Linked DNA regions of Homo sapiens. The protein of the gene in region 1 interacts with the protein of each later gene in a pairwise test. Each region holds a gene or a part of one and is shown on either strand. Other genes may lie near its edges. The genes, in order: ZNF329 and TRIM37.

Region 1 (9,994 bases):
TGAATTTTGACAAATGCAACCTAAACCTTTATTAAAATTACCATCAGCCTGAAAAGGTCCTTTATTTTTTGCCAAGTTAAAAAATTTGGCTATAGGAACTTGGGCTTGTTGAAGTACGTTTTGAATACCCAGTTTTTGTCTGTTTTTTCTTTTTTCCCACAGCAAGTGACTTTCCTCCATTCTACTGCTTGTTTACCTCTCTCTTCACCCAACTTTTCATTTTGAAAAGTTCCGCATTTGCATAGAAGTTGCAGGAATAGTTTAACACTTCTAAAACCATCCAGATTCTAAAATTATTAACACTTTTTGCCACATTAGCTTTATCTTTATCTTCTCCCTGCCTGAGACACATGCATAGGTGTTACCAGAAAGGGGGTCCCGAGCTATAACCCAACAGAGGGTTCTTATATCTTGGGAAAGAAAATTCAGGGCGAGTCCATAGAGTAAAGTGAAAGCAAGCTTATTAAGAAAGTAAAGGAATAAAAAAATGGCTACTCCATAGATAGAGCAGCCCCAAGAACTGCTGGTCGCCCATTTTTATGGTTATTTCTTGATTATATGCTAAACAAGGGGTGGATTATTCATGCCTACCATTTTTAGGCCATATAGGGTAACTTCCTGATGTTTCCATGACATTTGTAAACTGTCATGGTGCTAGTGGGAGCAGGACCAGAGGTCACTCTCGTTGCCATCTTGGTTTTGGTGGGTTTTAGCCACCTTTACTGCAAGCTGTTTTATCAACAAGGTCTTTATGACCTGTATCTTGTGCAAATCTCCTGTGTTATCCTATGACCTAGAATGCCTTAACTGTCTGGAAATGCAGCCCAGTAGGTTTCAGCCTTATTTTACCCAGTCCCCATTTAAGATGGAGGTTTGCTTTGGTTCAAACGCCTCTGACATAGGGTTTTCTTTTTATATTTTACACACACTTGTACACACAGCAGGTGTTGCAGAGGCAGGTGTGATACAGACATATATTTACATACACTTAGTTTTTTTGGCTGAGTTACTGGAAGTATGTTATAGATATCATACCTCACTCTGAAATACTTCAGCCAGGATCTCATAAGAAAAGTAACGTTCTTATTTTTTAATTTTGTATTTTTTATAGAGATGAGATCTCACTATGTTGCCCAGACTGTTCTTGAACTCCTGGTCTTAAGCAGTCCTCCTGCCTTGGCCTCCCAAAGTGGTGGGATTACAGGTGTGAGCCACCACACCCAGCCAAAAAGAACATTTGAACATTTAAACAAAACTAGTGTTATTATCACACCCAAGTATACTTTTTTTTTTTCAAAAAACTAATTGTTTTTTATTTGTAATTTTTTTTTCCTGCCAATCTGAACCTGGAAAAGAAGAAACAGGGAAATTTTTTACCTTCCTCTCTTTTTTTTTTTTTTTTTTTAATTGATCATTCTTGGGTGTTTCTCGCAGAGGGGGATTTGGCAGGGTCATAGGACAATAGTGGAGGGGAGGTCAGCAGATAAATAAGTGAACAAAGGTCTCTGGTTTTCCTAGGCAGAGGACCCTGCGGCCTTCCGCGCAGTGTTTGTGTCCCTGGGTACTTGAGATTAGGGAGTGGTGATGACTCTTAAGGAGCATGCTGCCTTCAAGCATCTGTTTAACAAAGCACATCTTGCACCGCCCTTAATCCATTTAACCCTGAGTGGACACAGCACATGTTTCAGAGAGCACAGGGTTGGGGGTAAGGTCACAGATCAACAGGATCCCAAGGCAGAAGAATTTTTCTTAGTACAGAACAAAATGAAAAGTCTCCCATGTCTACTTTCTGCACAGACACGGCAACCATCCGATTTCTCAATCTTTTCCCCACCTTTCCCCCCTTTCTATTCCACAAAACCGCCATTGTCATCATGGCCCGTTCTCATTGAGCTGTTGGGTACACCTCCCAGACGGGGTGGTGGCTGGGCATAGGGGCTCCTCACTTCCCAGTAGGGGCGGCTGGGCAGAGGCGCCCCTCACCTCCCGGACGGGGCGGCTGGCCGGGTGGGGGGGCTGACCCCCCCCACCTCCCTCCCGGACGGGGCGGCTGGCCGGGCAGAGGGTCTCCTCACTTCCCAGTGGGGCAGCCGGGCAGAGGCGCCCCTCATCTCCCAGACAGGGCGGCTGGCCGGGCGGGGGGCTGGCCCCCCACCTCCCTCCTGGACGGGGCGTCTGGCCAGGCGGAGGGCTGACCCCCCCACCTCCCTCCCGGACGGGGCGGCTGGCCGGGCGGGGGGCTGACCCCCCCACCTCCCTCCCGGGCGGGGCGGCTGGCCGGGCAGAGGGGCTCCTCACTTCCCAGTAGGGGCGGCTGGGCAGAGGCGCCCCTCACCTCCCGGACGGGGCGGCTGGCCGGGCGGGGGGCTGGCCCCCCACCTCCCTCCTGGACGGGGTGGCTGCCAGGCGGAGACGCTCCTCACTTCCCAGACGGGGTGGCTGCCGGGCGGAGGGGCTCCTCACTTCTCAGACGGGGCGGCTGCCTGGCGGAGGGGCTCCTCACTTCTCAGACGGGGCGGTTGCCAGGCGGAGGGTCTCCTCACTTCTCAGACGGGGCGGCTGGGCAGAGACGCTCCTCACCTCCCAGACGGGGTCGCGGCCGGGCAGAGGCGCTCCTCACATCCCAGATGGGGCGGCGGGGCAGAGGCGCTCCCCACATCTCAGACGATGGGCGGCCGGGCAGAGACGCTCCTCACTTCCTAGATGGGATGGCGGCCGGGCAGAGACGCTCCTCACTTTCCAGACTGGGCAGCCAGGCAGAGGGGCTCCTCACGTCCCAGATGATGGGCGGCCAGGCAGAGATGCTCCTCACTTCCCAGACAGGGTGGCGGCCGGGCAGAGGCTGCACTCTCGGCACTTTGGGAGGCCAAGGCAGGTGGCTGGGAGGTGGAGGTTGTAGCAAGCCAAGATCACGCCACTGCACTCCAGCCTGGGCACCATTGAGCACTGAGTGAACCAGACTCCGTCTGCAATCCCGGCACCTCGGGAGGCCGAGGCTGGCGGATCACTCGTGGTTAGGAGCTGGAGACCAGCCTGGCCAACACAGCGAAACCCCGTCTCCACCAAAAAAATACGAAAACCAGTCAGGCGTGGCGGCGCGTGCCTGCAATTGCAGGCACTCGGCAGGCTGAGGCGGGAGAATCAGGCAGGGAGGTTGCAGTGAGCCGAGATGGCAGCAGTACCGTCCAGCTTCGGCTCGGCATCAGAGGGAGACCGTGGAAAGAGAGGGAGAGGGAGACCGTGGGGAGAGGGAGAGGGGGAGGGGGAGAGGGAGAGGGACTACCTTCCTCTCTTGACCAGGTACCACCTACTTTTTTTTTTTAAAGATGGAATCTTACTCCGTCACCCAGGGTAGAGTGCAGTGGAGCGATCTCGGCTCACTGCAACCTCTACTTCCCAGGCTCAAGTGGTTTTCCTGCCTCAGCCTCCCAAGTAGCTGGAATTACAGGTGTGTGCCACTATGCCCAGCTAATATTTGTATTTTTAGTAGAGACGGGGTTCCGCCATGTTGGCCAGGCTGGTCTTGAACTCCTGACTTCAAGTGATCTGCCCACCTTGGCCTCCTACAGTGCTGGGATTACAGGTGTGAGCCACTGCGCCTGGCCCCAGATACTTTATTATTGATACAGAATTCCTGTCTGATATAGTTTGTATGCAGCTGATACAGTTTGTATGGTTTTTGGGTATTTGTTTTGATCCAGGATCCAATCCAGGATCCTGTGTTACATTGACTTGTCATGTTATTTTAGTCTTCCTCAACCTTGAATGGCACTCTCCTTTCTTTTTTTTTTTTTTTCATGAAATTGATATATTTTTAAAAGACCCAGCTGGTGGTTGTGTAGATTGTCACTTGATGTTCAGTTGACATTCCCAATATTAAATTCAGACTCTCGTCTTTGGCAGGGCATTGTCTAAGTGACATCATGTTCTTCTTGGTGTGTCGTGTCAGGAAGCATGTGAGGCTGGTGGTGATCAGGTTTTTGTCATGTGGTTAAAGTGCTCTCTGCCAGGATCCTCCGCTTTTTCCCCTCTGTAATTGATAAGCCATTCTAGAGATGGTACTTTGAATGTTCTTTTAATCTTATGTTCATGGTGTATTACTCATTTTGATATAGTAAGATGTTTCAAATCTTTTTCTTTATGTTTTGTGCCTTTTGTGAGTTGAGAAATTCTTTGGCTTGGCGCAGTGGCTCGCGCCTATAATCCCAGCACCTTGGGAAGCTGAGGCGGGTAGATCACTTGAGGTCAGGAGTTCAACACCAGCCTGGCCGACATGGTGAAACCCCATCTCTACTAAAAATATAAAAATTAGCTGGGTATGGTGGTGGGCACATGTAATCCAAGCTACTCAGGCAGCTGAGGCAGGAGAATCACTTAAACCCAGGAGGCGGAGGTTGCAGTGAGCTGAGATCATGCCACTACACTCCAGCCTGGGTGACAGAGTGAGGCACTGTCTCCAAAAAAAAAAAAAAAAAAAAAAAAGGAAGAAAAAAGAAATTTTTTTTGGCTTGATGTAGTGGTGGCTCACGCCTTAATCCCAGCACTTTGGGAATCTGAGGCTGGAGGATCACTTGAGCTCAGGAGTTTGAAACCAGCCTGGGCAACACAGTGAGACCCAATCTCTACAAAACATTTAAAAAAAAAAAATGGCCAGGCGCGGTGGCTCACGCCTGTAATTCCAGCACTTTGGGAGGCCGAGGCGGGCGGGTCACGAGGTCAGGAGATCGAGACCATCTTGGCTAACATGGTGAAACCCCGTCTGTACTAAAAATACAAAAAATTAGCCAGGCATGGTGGCAGGCACCTGAAGTCCCAGCTACTCGGGAGGCTGAGGCAGGAGAATGGCGTGAACCCGGGAGGCAGAGCTTGCAGTGAGCAGAGATCGCACCACTGCACTCCAGCCTGGGTGACAGATCAAAACTCTGTATCAAAAAAAAAAAAAAAAAGAAAAAAAATTATCCAGGTGTGATGGCATACTCCTATGGTCATGGCTCCTGAGCCCAGGCATTCAAGATTACAGTGAGCCATGATCATACTACTGCATTCAAGCCTGAGCATCAAAGCAAGACTCTGTCTCTTTAAAAAAAAAAAAAAAAAAAAAAATTCTTGGCTGGGCGCCATGGCTCATGCCTGTAATCCTAGCATTTTGGGAGGTCGAGGCAGGCAGATCACCTGAGGTCAGGAGTTCAAGATCAGCCTGGCCGACTTGGTGAAACCCCATCTCTATTAAAAATATAAACAATTAGCCGAGTGTGGTGACGCGTGCCTGTAATCCCAACTACTCGGGAGGCTGAGGCACGAGAGTCACTTGAACCCAGGAAGCGGAGGTTGCAGTGAGCCGAGATCGCGCCACTGCACTCCAGCCCAGCTACAGAGCGAGACTCCGTCTCAAAAAAAAAATATATATATATATATAGATAGATAGATAGATAGATAGATAGATATAGATGTAAAATTAGCTGCGTGTGGTGGCAGGTACCTGTAGTCCTGGCTACTCAGGAGGCTGAGGCAAGAGAATTGCTTGAACCCAGGAGGCGGAGGTTGCAGTGAGTTGAGATCACGCCACTGCACTCCAGCCTGGGCAACAGAGCAAGACTCCATCTGAAAAATAAAAAAATAAAAAATAACAACAACAAAAAAACCCACAATTTTTTTCTACTCTGATAACTCAAAGATATTCTTGTAGTTCTATATTTATTTATTTATTTATTTTTTGAGACTGAGTCTCGCTGTTGTTGCCCGGGCTGGAGTGAAATGGTGCAATCTCGGCTCACTGCAACCTCTGCCTCCCGGGTTCCAGCAATTCTTCTCCCTCAGCCTCCCGAGTAGCTGAGATTACGGGCGCCTGCCACCACGCCTGGCTAATTTTTGTATTTCTAGTAGAGACAGGGTTTCACTATGTTGGCCAGGCTGGTCTCGAACTCCTGACCTCGGGTGATCCACTTGCCTCGGCCTCCCAAAGTCCTGGGATTATAAGTGTGAGCCACTGCGCCCAGCCTAGTTCTATTATTTCTAATCATTCAAAAAAATTTTTTCTCACATACTATTTAGGTCTTATAAGCCTGTGTGTGAGCGTGAGTGAATTTGGAATTGTAATTATTTTTCCATCTGAAAAGACAGCACGAGATATACTTACTTTTGCTAATGTGTGAGGCCACCTTTATCACCTTTTAAATTATTAAATGCCTCCAAGTCTGTTTGGGGCTCTGTCCTTCCTGTACCTTCACTGGGTTGCTTGCTTACTGGAACTTTAAGGAGGAGCCTTGACTTTGGCAAAACAACTACTCCTAGCTCTTTTTCCTCTCTTCTTTTTGTTTTTTAAGGAGTTGTCATGGATATTTCAGGAAGCTGTCTTCTTCAGTGTGAATTTTGTCACGCATCAGTAAAATTATTCCAGAGATTTGCTTGGAAGGCATTGCTTTTACAGGTCTAGTGAGAGTTGTCCTGGTTTCAGTACCCAGCCCTTTCATCTGTGTACCTGGTCTAGCTCCTCTCTTACTCAAATGCCCTCTCAGGTCTTGAGTAAACTTTTTCAAGTTTTCACCACAAAGATACTATATAATTTTTGTTAATTTTTGTTTTCTTTTTTTTGAGATAGGGTCTTGCTGTCTCACCCAGGCTGGAGTGCAGTGGCACGATCACAGCTCACTGCAGCCTTGAGCTCCTGGGCTACCAAGTAGCTGGGACTTCAGGTATGCACCATCACGCCTGGCTAAAGGCATTTCACTACATTGTCTAAGCTGGCCTTGAACTCCTAGGCTCAAGTGATCCTCCTGCCTCAACCTCCCAAAGTGCTGGTATTACAGGTGTTATCCAGTGCACCCGGCTGTGGCTGGGCTTTCACTGTGATTAGGTAATGGGGTTGGGGTTGGGGCTTGCATAGTTTGAACTTCCTGCTGGCACCAAGGAGGAAACTCCCAGACTTTCTTGTTGGCTTGCCCAGATGAGAGGGAGAAGGAGAAAGGGGTTGGGGCTTGAAAGCTGTCAGCAACCATCCAAAATGGAGTCAGACTCTTTATCACACTTGTAATCACATGGCTGACTTTGTCAGGATGGGATTAAAGTTGGTAAATGATTTATTTTTGTTAATGAGTTGTGAACAAGTAAAGTAAACATTATTATGGGTGTCCCACAGAGATGGCTGGAGCCGTGTGGATGGGCATAAATGGCTAATGTCCAGCAACCATCGATGTCAAGTATCCACACACCTGGCCTGAATGGATCCCTCTGCCTTTCAGAGGTGAGTACCAGGGAATGGAAGTCTACATGAGCTCAGCACATCCCTGCAAGGACTGTTATTTCCTTTATAAAGTCCTAAAATACCAGAAATGTGGCAGATGGGGTCTAGACTAGTGGTTCTGACCCTTACAGACTCGACACATACTTACTCTTTTAAACAGCTTTATTGAGATATAATTCACATAGCATACAATTTACCCTTTTAAGTGTACAATTCATTGTTTTTTATTATATTAACTAGCTTGTATATCCATTGCCACAGTCAATCTTCGAATGTTTTCATCACCCCTGAAAAAGAAAACCCATACCATTAGCAGTCACTCCCCCATCTTTCCCAGCCCTAGGTAATCTCTAATCTACTTTCTGTCTTATAGATTTGCCTGTTATGGACATTTCATATAAATAGCCTGCAGTATGTGGTCTTTTGTATGTGGCTTGTTAGACTTAGGAAAATGTTTCATGTTATAGCATGGGTCTTTTTTTATTTTATTTTATTTTTGAGATGTAGTCTTGCTCTGTCACCCGAGCTGGAGTACAGTGGCACGATCAGGGCTCACTGCAAACTGCTTCCCAGGTTCAAGCAATTCTCCTGCCTCAGCCTCCCTAGTAGCTGGGATTACAGGCGAGGGCCACCATACCCGGCTAATTTGTTTTTTTTTTTTTTGAGATGGAGGTTCGCTCTTGTTGCCCAGGCTGGAGTGCAATGGCATGATCTCGGCTCACTGCAACCTCCGCCTCTTGGGTTCAAGCGATTCTCCTGCCTCAGTCTTCCGAGTAGCTGGGACTACAGGTGCATGCCACCATGCCTGGCTAATTTTTTGTATTTTTAGTAGAGATGGGGTTTCACCGTGTTACCCAGGCTGGTCTTGAATTCCTGAGCTCAAATGATCCACCTGCCTCAGCCACCCAAAGTGCTGGGATTACAGGCATGAACCACTGCACCTGGCCAAGAGCATTAGGCCAGGCCGGGCACAGTGGCTTATGCCTGTAATCGCAGCACTTTGGGAGGCCAAGGCAGGCTGATCACCTTAGGTCAGGAGTTCAAGACTAGCCTCACCAACATGGAGAAACCCCGTCTCTACTGAAAATACAAAAATTAGGCATGGTGGCACATGCCTGTAATCCCAGGTACTCGGGAGACTGAGTCAGGAGAATCACTTGAACCCGGGAGGAGGAGGTTGCAGTGAGCTGAGATCGCTCCACTGCACTTCAGTCTGGGCAACACAGCGAGACTCTGTCTCAGAAAAAAAAAAAGAGTGTTAAGCCAGGCGTGGTGGCTCACAACTGTAATCCCAGCACTTTGGAAGGCTGAGGTGGGAGGATTGCTTGAGCCCAGGAGTTCAAGACCAGCCTGGCCCATATAGTGAGACCTCATCTCTACCAAAAAAAAAAGAAAAATTTAGGCTGGGTGTGGTGGCTCACGTCTGTAATCCCAGCACTTTGCGAGGCTGAGACATGCAGATCCCTTGAGGTTAGGAGTTTAGGACCAGCCTGGCCAACATGGTGAAACCCTGTCTACTAAAAATAGAAAAATTAGCCAGGCATGGGGGCATGTGCCACTTAAGAGGCCAAGGCAAGAGAATCGCTTGAGCACAGGAGGTGGAGGTTGCAGTGAGCTGAGATCATGCCACTGTACTCCAGCCTGAGACAGAGTGAGATTCTAACTCAAAAAAAAAAAAAAAATTATGTGTGATGGTGTGCAACTGTGGTCCCAGCTACTCAGGAAGCTGAGGTGGGAGGATCACTTGAGCCCAGGAGATTGAGGCTGTGTTGAGCCTTGATTGCACCTTGCAGTCTAGGCTGGACAAGAGAGTGAGACCCTGTCTCTTAAGAAAGAAAAAAAGGGCTGGGCGCGGTGGTCACGCCTGTAATCCCAGCGCTTTGGGAGGCCGGGGTGGGCGGATCACGAGGTCAGGAGATCGAGACCATCCTGGCCAACATGGTGAAACCCCATCTCTACTAAAAAATGTACAAAAAATCAGCTGGGTGTGGTGGCGGGCACCTGTAGTCCCAGCTACTCGGGAGGCTGAGGCAGGAGAATGGCGTGAACCCGGGAGACGGAGCTTGCAGTGAGCCGAGATCACGCCACTGCACACCAGCCTTAGCAAAAGAGCAAGACTCTGTCTCAAAAAAAAAAAAAAAAGAAAGAGTTTTATAGTTGTAGCTTTTATGTTTAGGCTGATCCATTTTGAGTAAATTTTTATGTAATGTGCACGGTTTATAATCTGTTTTGCAGTGTACTCTAAATTTACTGGTAATATTAAATATCCATATAATTCTTTAAATTCTAAAGCCCTAAGTCTATGTAAAGAATCAATACAATTCTGGGGGCACTAATTCATTTCCCCCAGAACCGATCCAGTCTCATGAGAGCAAGAACTCACTACTGTGAGAACAGCACCAAGCCATTCATGCGGGTTCCACCTCCATGACCCAAACCCCTCCTGGTAGGCTGCATGCCCCAGCACCACCACAGTAGGGATTAAATTTCAGCATGAGATTTGGTGTGGACAAACCATATCCAAACCGTAGCAGTGGAATAGCTGGATCATATGACAGCTCCATATTTTCCTTTTTGAGAATCATCAGACTGGTTTCCAAATTAGCTACACTGTTTTATATTTGCACCGGCAGTGAAAAGTTTCCAGTTTTTCCATATCCTTGCCAATACTTGTTATTGTTTTTGTTTGTTTTTAAATATTGAACATACTAGTGAGTGTAAAGTGGCATCTCACTGTGGTTTTGATCAGCATTT
Region 2 (9,994 bases), on another chromosome or scaffold:
ATGTTGTGGTTTTTATTGTGGGGAAATAATATCATCAGAACTATATTTCAAAGATCATTTGGTTAACAAAGATGAATATTGAAATTCATACTAACTATAACCTTATCACCTTTTTTTTTTTTTTTTTTTTTTTTTTTTTTTGGAGACATAGTCTCGCTCTGTCGCCCTGGCGCGATCTCGGCTCACTACAAGCTCCGCCTCCCGGGTTCACGCCATTCTCCTGCCTCAGCCTCCCGAGTAGCTGGGACTACAGGCGCCCGCCACCACGCCTGGCTAATTTTTTACTATTTTTAGTAGAGACGGGGTTTCACTGTTTTAGCCAGGATGGTCTCGATCTCCTGACCTCGTGATCCGCCCGCCTCGGCCTCCCAAAGTGCTGGGATTACAGGCGTGAGCCACCGTGCCCGGCCCCTTATCACTTTCTTAACTGTTTTATTTAAGTGGATAATAATCAAAAATTTGTAGTCAAAAAGTCAAACTTTTTTTGACATCTAGTTAGCAATTCCATTAAAGATAAGCTGGGTGCAGTGGTGCGCCGGTGTTTCCATCTACTATGGAGGCTAAGATGGGAGGACGGCTTGGGCCCAGGAGTTTGAGACCAGCTTAGGAAACATTATGAGACCCCCCATCTTTTTAAAAAGAAAAAAAAAAGGGGGTGGGTGGGAAACTACAACTTCCAGTAAGTATAGTAATGTTCCATTTGTCTGTTGAACTTCTAGTGACCTCACCATTTGGAAATCTAAGAATAGTGAGGGATAAAGTGCTGATTTTTTTCACTTCACAGTGCATATTATATTTGAGTGACTGGTTTTACAACTTAATTTTATAAAGCAACTATCAGTTCTTTGTCAATAACAGCAAATTAAAAGTAGAAGAGTCAAGATGAAAGTTGACGAAAACCAGCAATTTTCTACTTTTTTCTTAAACTTTTATTTTAGGTTCAGGGGTACATGTGTAGGTTTGTTATACAGGTAAACTCACATCATGGTGATTTGGTGTACGGATTATTTCATCACCCAGATACTAAGCCTAGTACCCAATAGTTATTTTTTCTTATCCTCTCCCTCCTCCCACCCTCCACCCTCAAGTAGGCCCCAGTGTCTGTTGTTGTTACCCCTCGTTATATCCTTGAGTTCTCATCATTTAGCTTTTTTTTTTTTTTTTTTTTTTTTGAGATGGAGTCTCCCTCTGTCGCCCAGAGGCGACATATCGGCTCACTGCAAGCTCTGCCTCCCGGGTTCACACCATTCTCCTGCCTCAGCCTCCCAAGTAGCTGGGACTACAGGTGCCTGCCACTGCATCTGGCTAATTTTGTTTTTGTATTTTTAGTAGAGATGGGGTTCCACCGTGTTAGCCAGGATGGTCTCGATCTCCTGACCTCTTGAGCCTCCTGCCTCAGCCTCCAAAGTGCTGGGATTACAGGCCTGAGCCACTGCGCCCGGCCCATTTAGCTCTTAAATAATAAGTGAGAACATGTGGTATTTGCGAAAACCATCAATTTTTTTTTTTTTTTTTTTTTTTTTTTGAGACAGAGTTTCTAGTTGCCCAGGCTGGAGCGCAATGGCGCGATCTTGGCTCCCTGCAACCTTTGCCTCCCAGGTTCAAGCGATTCTCCTGCCTCAGCCTCCCGAGTAGATGGGATTGCAGGCACGCGCCACCATGCCTGGCTAATTTTGTACTTTTAGTAGAGATGGGGTTTCTCCGTGTTGATCAGGCTGGTTTCTAACTCCCGACCTCAGGTGATCCACCCACTTCGGCCTCCCATAGTGCTGGGATTATAGGCATGAGCCACCACGTCTGGCCAAAACCATCAATTTTTATTGTTGATTGTTGGTGTAGTATTTACAAGAAAGGATAGAACGTAAATACTGACTCAAACAACAGCCCTATTTAGCCAGGTGTGGTGGCTCACGCCTGTAATCCCAGCACTTTGGGAGGCTGAGGCAGGCAGATCACTTGGGCTCAGGAGTTTGAGAGCAGCCTGGCCAATATGGTGAAATCCTATCTCTACTAAAAATACAAAAATTAGCCGGGCTGTGGTGGCACGCGCCTGTAATCCCAGCTACTCAGGAGGCCAAGGCAGGAGAATCGCTTGAATCCGGCAGGTGGAGGTTGCAGTGAACCGAGATTATGCCACTGCACCCCAGCCTGGGCGACATAGCAAGACCCTATCTCAAAAATAATAATAAAGTAAATAAAAACAACAGCCCTGTTTAACGTGGGGTAGTCTTTACAGGTCAGAAGTTTTTGGGCATTGGCTGGGTGCCGTGGCTCACGCCTGTAATCCCAGCACTTTGGGAGGCTGAGGTGGGTGGATCACCTGAGGTCAGGAGTTCAAGATCAGCCTGGGCAACATGGTGAAACCCTGTCTCTACTAAAAATACAAAAATTAGCTGGGCATGGTGGCAGGCACTTGTAATCCCAGCTACTTGGGAAGCTGAGGCAGTTGAATCGCTTGAGTCCGGGAGGCAGATGTTGCAGTGAGCCGAGATTTCACCAGTGCACTCCAGCCTGGGCGACAAGAGTGAAACTCCATCTTAAAAAAACAAAAAACAAACAAAAAAAGGTTTTTGGGTATCATTACATGATGTTATAATTTGATGATCAAAATAAGAACTTGAATATTTAAAAAAGATTAAAATATGTTCTGAACTGAGAAGTTTCAGAGTATTTAACAGTTTAAAAAGTTCTCATCACAACAATTTTAAACATTTTTTTCTTGAGAGTGATTTAATGTACTCCTGAATTTCCCTTATTCGGAGCTCTTTGTTCTTGAGCATACTGGACAGATGAGTTGCTATCATATCAGCATTTACTCTTATGTGTTTTCCGTAGCTTTTCTGGAAGTATAAAGAAGTTTAACAAGGGATATGATTTTCAGTGTAGGGAAAAAGATATGTTTTTGTTATTGTTTTGTTTTGTTTAGAGTCAGTGTCTTGCTATATTGCCCAGTCTAGTCTAGAATTCTCGGGCTCAAGTGATCCTCCTGTCTCAACTTCCCAAGTAGGTAGGATTACAGGTGCATGCCACGGTGCCTGGAATCATGTTTTTTGAGGGGAGGGATTATTTTAGTTTTCTTCGTATAGCTTTTCAGACTTTTGGGGTTTAACTATTCACCAAGAGAAATAATTTATTGCTATTTCATGCTTCAGCCATAGAGAGAATTACAAAATTATTCAAACATCAATTTTACCAACCTATAAAAGACCCATTTTCTTATAGCCTTGATTTCATCCTTATTAGCGTTACTTATTAGTACAGAAACAAATTCCTGTTATGACATCATTTTTTTTAAGCAACATTGAGTCTATACCATATGCCTGACACTGAGTTGCTAATAAGAAAAATATAGACATGGTTTTTGTCCACAGGGAACTCAAGATGAAATTGGCAGATAAAAACAGAATTTACTACTCTCTTATTATAAAATAATGCTATAGTAGCACCGTAAGTAAATTGCTATGAAGTTTGTGGATAGGGGGCTTCACATTATCCTATTAATGAGACATTGCTCAAACTTTAAACCTTTTATTTCAAGATTCTGGTGGAATTTTGTATGTATTTATTAGAAAGTTATTTAAGGCTTTTCTATAACTATGAATGTATGTTTCATTCTTTCATTAAAACAGAAAGTTAAGAAATTTTACCTGCTGCTTGGTTTTGTTTTAATGGCAAAATATTAGAACTAATGTGCAGAGTTAACCAGTGGTTTAAATCATTCAAAGAAAATAATAGTGTTTAGACGGTCTTACTTTAATGTCTTACCAGTGGGTACTTCCTAGACTGTGAATCGTCTCTGCTCAGTTGAGTGAATCATCTCTACTCAGTTCCGTTCAGAACGTAATTTAATCTCTTGATTTGATTTGATTTGATTTGATTTGATTTGATTTGATTTGATTTTTTGAGACAGAGTTTCGCTCTGTTGCCCAGGCTGGAGTGCAGTGGTGCGATCTCGGCTCACTGCCACCTTTGCCTCCCAGATTCAAGCGATTCTCCTGCCTCAGCCTCCTGAGTAGCTGGGATTACAGGCGCCCGCCACCATACCCGGCTAATTTTTGTACTTTTAGTAGAGACGGGGTTTCACCATGTTGGCCACGCTGGTCTCGAACTCCTGACCTTAGGTGATCTGCCCACCTCGGCCTCCCAAAGTGCTAAGATTACAGGTGTGAGCCACTGTGCCCGGCCAATCTCTCTCTTTTTTTAATACTCAAGTTCTCATTTTGATCATCCAGTTATAACATATAATGATGCCCAAAAACTTCTGACCTATAAAGACTATCCCAACATTAAATAGGACTGTTGTTTTATAGTCAGTGTTTATGTTCTGTCCTTTCTTGCATTAGTATTCTTCACTAAAACTAGATATCTACTGCCAGATAACTGTTAAATGGTCAGTAGGTTCTTACAATAAGGTGTAAAATCCTAGAAAAAAATGAACAGCTAACATTGTGTAGCCGGGTAAAAGGGCTGGAAGGAATGAGAGAGATGTAGATGTCCAAATTAGTCTTGCCTTGTGGTTTTTCCTTTCTTCAAAAACACCTTCACACATGCACTGCAATTTTTTCACCTTAAATATAGTCACGTTAGGCTATGTAACAAAGGTAGAGGTTTGTTTGCTTTAGTAATAGTTTTTTTTTTTTTTTTAATTAAAACAACTCTGGATAGATTAAGATTCTGTCATTTATATATTAATACGATTTTATGTAGGTGCAGTACTTTTTTTCCTAACCTAAGCTGAAATAATGCCATATTGTAATAAGGGCAGTTTTGATTGCTATCTTGAAGGGTTCAGGATATAGTTTATTTAGAGCATGTAACTCCTTGGGGGATAGTAAAGCAATCCTGGGTGGTTGAGCCAGGAAGTGATTTTTTTTCTGAGGGGCAGGAAATACGGGAACGTGAGATGGAATAGAGAAATATAAAGAGCAGCACTTAAAACTTTGTATTTTGCTACAAAAAATTAGCCGGGCGTAGTGGCGGGCGCCTGTAGTCCCAGCTACTTGGGAGGCTGAGGCAGGAGAATGGCGTGAACCCGGGAGGTGGAGCTTGCAGTGAGCCGAGATCCCGCCACTGCACTCCAGCCTGGGCGACAGAGCGAGACTCCGTCTCAAAAAAAAAAAAAACTTTGTATTTTGCTGGGGCCTCATTTAGGGAAGAAAGGGATAAGAGTTATCTTCCTCCTTATAGGAGGAAACTGCATAGTATATGGCTCTCTTCTTCCCAACTCATGATCATCATTGTATTTTAGTTACATTATTATAATAAATATGCCTGAGTAGGTTAGTTTGGGAAGCTTAACTACAATGTACAATGTTATTTCTTTAGAAAGGTAGTTTGAGGACAACTGGCTTTTCAGAACCTTGTGTCATAATCTGTGGACTACATCTATAAACAACAAATACTAGCAGCTCTAAGTTTATGTGAATTTTGGCCTTATAATCAAGTTAACCCAAATTGCAGAATTCAGTGCTAGACTGATAATGTTTTACTATTTGAATTTTTTTTTTAATGTGGCACAATTCTTTTAAGGTTTCAGGTACGTTCACCAACTTTCTTTCAAAAATCCCGGGACCAGCATTGGTACATTACTCAGTTGGAAGCTGCACAGACTAGTTATATCCAACAAATAAACAACCTTAAAGAGGTAAGAAAATATCTATTTCTGTTTTGGTGTTTCCTATTGTCCTTTTGGCTTGTTATATTTGTAATTAGATTTTATATATTTTATTGCTATTTGTAATTTTGTAATTTGTAATTAGAAAAAAAATCTAGTTATCTTGTTCCCCATCCTTACCAGTTCTGCAGTGTCCAGTTTAGTAGACACTAGCCACATACGGCCATGTAAATTTTTATTTTACTTTATTTATTTATTTTTTTTGAGAAGGAGTCTCGCTCTGTTGCCCAGGCTGGAGTGCAGTGGTGCAATCTCGGCTCACTGCAAGCTCCGCCTCCTGGGTTCACGCCATTCTCCTGCCTCAGCCTCCTGAGTAGCTGGGACTACAGGCGCCTGCCACCACACCGGGCTAATTTTTTTGTATTTTTAGTAGAGACAGGGTTTCACAGTGTTAGCCAGGATGGTCTCGATGTCCTGACCTCGTGATCTGCCCACCTCGGCCTCCCAAAGTGCTGGGATTACAGGCATGAGCCACCACGCCCTGCCACTTTATTTTTATTTTTTTTTATTTTGGAGACAGGTCGGACTCACTCTTGTTGCCAGGCACAATTTCCACTAACTGCAGCTTCAACTTCCCAAGCTCGGGTGATCTTCCCACCTTAGCCTCCCAGGTAGCTGGGACTACGAGCATGTGTCATGGCTAGTTTTTGTTTTTGTGGAGATGGGTTTCTCCATGTTGCCCAAGCTGGTCTTGAACTCCTGGGCTCAAGCAGTCTGCCTGCCTTGGCCTCCCAAAGTGCTGGGATTACAGGTGTGAGCCACTGTGCCTGGTCTGTAAATTTAGCTTAATTAAAATTAAAAATTTAGTTCCTTAGTTGCAGTAGCCACATTTCAAGTGCTTGCATTGGTTACTGCAAATCTAGAGCATTTCCATCATTGCATAAAGTTGTTTTGAACAGTGTGGCTGTAGTTTGAGGTAAGCTGTTTGTGTTTCTGTCAGTGACTTAGTTTCTCTTCCACAAGTTATCTTGGATTTAGAGGATTCTAGGCTATAGCACAATTAAAAGTTGTCCCATCTTGAACTCTTACTATTGTTGAATGAGCACTGGGGAAGATTAATTGATGAATTTTTATTTTACAGTGGTAAACTAAGGAATGTTTCATTTCCCTTAGGAAGTTAGGGTGTGGCAGGAGGTTTGGAGTGCTGAGAGTCGTTAATAGGTCAGGGAGGAAAATGTGAATAAATACATGCTTTCAGAGATTTTCATGTTAAATGTGCTATTTAAAACTGCCTGTATTCACTATACTGTTTGCTAATTGTATGTTTAGCTTAGGCTGGATATGAAAGAAGGAGGATGAGCATAAATGGGGCAGTTTATCTTTGTCATCAATTTTTTTTTATAAATAAAAGGCAGTAGGGATTCAGAGAAATGGTTTAAGAAATGGTGCCAAGTGAGGTGGCTCATTCCTGTAATCCCAGCATGTTGGGAGGCCGAGGCCAGAGGAACATTTGAGCCCAGGGGTTCAAAACCAGCTTGAGCAACATAGCAAGATACCGTCTCTAAAAATAAATAAAAATGAAATTAGCCAAGCATGGTGGCACACACCTCCAGTCCCAGCCACTTGAGAGGCTGAGGCAGTAGGATCGTTTGAGCCCAGTAGTTCAAGGCTTGCAGTGAGCTATGATGGCACCACTGCACTTCAGCCTGGGCAACAGAGTGAGACCATTCTCAAAAAATAAATAAAGCAATGGTTTTAGAAACATCTGGATGCATTTTTTTTTCACTTGAGACATCTTTTACTGTGCCAGTGAGCTGTGGCTAATATTTGTGCTTTTCTTGTTTTAAAAGAGACTTACTATTGAGCTGTCTCGAACTCAGAAGTCAAGAGATTTGTCACCACCAGATAACCATCTTAGCCCCCAAAATGATGATGCTCTGGAGACACGAGCTAAGAAGTCTGCATGCTCTGACATGCTTCTCGAAGGTGGTCCTACTACAGCTTCTGTAAGAGAGGCCAAAGAGGATGAAGAAGATGAGGAGAAGATTCAGAATGAAGATTATCATGTAATAATGAGGCCAGTTTTAGATTTTTGTGTTTGATTAAAAAAAAACAGTAGCATCATGGCTTTTAACATATTATGTGCTAAAACAGTAGGCTAAAAATATTGTCCATTGATTTCCATTAGTAATGTATGTATGCCCTTATGTAAATGTTAATAAGTCAGAAGTTGTTGAATCAAAGCATTTCAAGGTTGTGAAAAAAACAATACATTGTATAAAACAAACCGTGATACACATTTTAAAACCTAAACTACCATACATTGTGGATTTTAAAAATGTGTTCTGGCCGGGTGCGGTGGCTCACACCTGTAATCCCAGCACTTTGGGAGGCCAAGGTGGGTGGATCACATGAGGTCAGGAGTTCGAGACTATCCTGGCCAACATGGCCAAACCCTGTCTCTACGAAAAATACAAAAATTAGCTGGGTGTGGTGGTGCTTGCCTGTAATCCCAGCTACTTGGGAGGCTGAGGTAGGAGAATCACTTGAACCTAGGAGGCGGAGGTTGCAGTGAGCCAAGATTGTGCCACTGCACTCCAGCCTGGGAGACAGAGCAAGACTCTGTCTCAAAGAAAAAGAAAAAAAAAAGGTGTTCTATTTTCATTCACTGAAACTAGTACATGCCTTATCATTACTTACGTAGGTAGACTGATTTAGGATTCGGTAGCTAGCCAGGTTCTATCCCAGCTAAACAACAGTCAGAATCCAGAATAAGAGTTCAAGAAGTAGTTGATATTTTTACATAAGAAGGGATGCATAGACAGTTGGTTTTTTTGTAGTAATTTTTAAGATGAGAGACTTCAGTTTTAAGTTAAAATGAAGGACCCAGTGGGTCGAGAGAATGCACAGATTAAGTGCTTTGATAAACTAGAGATAATAGGGTTTGGAATGGAGCAGTCAGGTGAAGCAGTTAACCTTTGATAAACTGAGTTAAAGGAAGGGTGGAGTTTGCAGGTAAGGCAGCTGAAAAGTTGGGGAAGTTTTTGCTTAATAGTGGGTATTTTTTTTCTGTGCAGATAGGTGACAGTGTTAATTAATGACCTTGATAATGGTAAAATTAGGTAGAATTGAGGAGTGATGGTTTGAAACGTTACTCTGTGAGGAAGCTGATGTGGAATATGTGAAGGATTCCAGTCACACTGAGGGCCCAGCTGAAGGCGGCACGCATAAGTTAGTAAAATGATATCAGTCAGTGTGGTTGTGTGATTTTTCTCTACAGGGCTCAGCAGCTGAGGCACAGGAGCAGAAAATAGATTTTTGAAAACTGTATTATTCTTTGGTGCTTGGTTTATGGGCTGGATGGGGTGATCAACTGAGTAGAAACATTTGGAATAGACGTCTTGTTTTCTTGGCATTGATCTAGCACGAGCTTTCAGATGGAGATCTGGATCTGGATCTTGTTTATGAGGATGAAGTAAATCAGCTCGATGGCAGCAGTTCCTCTGCTAGTTCCACAGCAACAAGTAATACAGAAGAAAATGATATTGATGAAGAAACTATGTGAGTTTCCCACTTTACTACTGTAAAGCATTTAAGTGGTAATTATTAGAAGCATATTAACTAACTCACACTTAAATGTAGGGATATTCAGCACTTTTTTGAAAGATTGAATCAATAGTCAGTTTTCTCTCTCTAATCTCTGGGCTCTTAGCCAATAATTTTTGTTTGTGTTTTAACTTTTAAATTTGAATTTTGAAATTATTTTATACTTAAGAAAAGTTCAGAATTTCATGTTTCCTTCACACAGATTCATTCCCTATGAATATTTTGCTTTATATTTCTCTGTATATAATTTTTTCTGAAACACTTGAGATCGAATATACTTCTCATTGTGTACTTTTCTAAAAACAAGGATATTCTTACATAACTATAGAATAGTTATCAAAATCTGGAAATTAACATTGATGTAATACTGTAACCTTCTAAAAATTTGCCAGTAATGTCCTTTGTCAGGATCATGTTGCATTTAATTGTTAAATCGATTTAGTTATCTTCAATCTGGGTTACTTTTTTTTTTTTCCTTTTTTTTTGAGACGGAGTCTCGCTCTGTCGCCCAGGCTGGAGTGCAGTGGCATGATCTCAGCTCACTGCAAGCTCCACCTTCCGGATTACGCCATTCTCCTGCCTCAGCCTCCCGAGCAGCTAGAACTACAGGCGCCCGCCACCTCGCCCAGCTAATTTTTTGTATTTTTAGTAGAGACGGGGTTTCACCGTGTTAGCCAGGTTGGTCTTGATCTCCTGACCTCATGATCCGTCCACCTCGGCCTCCCAAAGTGTTGGGATTACAGGCGTGAGCCACCGCACCTGGCCAATCTGGGT

The links.
Region 2: the proteins of ZNF329 (region 1) and TRIM37 interact in binary tests that used the Homo sapiens proteins (3 or more experiments, as listed by UniProt).

Annotation. Positions count from the first base shown.
Region 1 is NC_000019.10:58,139,803-58,149,796, reverse strand, and holds part of ZNF329 (zinc finger protein 329), read left to right. Parts: intron 1-6,598; 5' UTR 6,599-6,692; intron 6,693-7,135; 5' UTR 7,136-7,217; coding exon of another isoform or gene 7,218-7,240; intron 7,241-9,994. UniProt on the Homo sapiens protein: May be involved in transcriptional regulation.
Region 2 is NC_000017.11:59,046,864-59,056,857, reverse strand, and holds part of TRIM37 (E3 ubiquitin-protein ligase TRIM37), read left to right. Parts: intron 1-5,529; coding exon 5,530-5,644; intron 5,645-7,464; coding exon 7,465-7,680; intron 7,681-9,038; coding exon 9,039-9,175; intron 9,176-9,994. UniProt on the Homo sapiens protein: E3 ubiquitin-protein ligase required to prevent centriole reduplication. Probably acts by ubiquitinating positive regulators of centriole reduplication.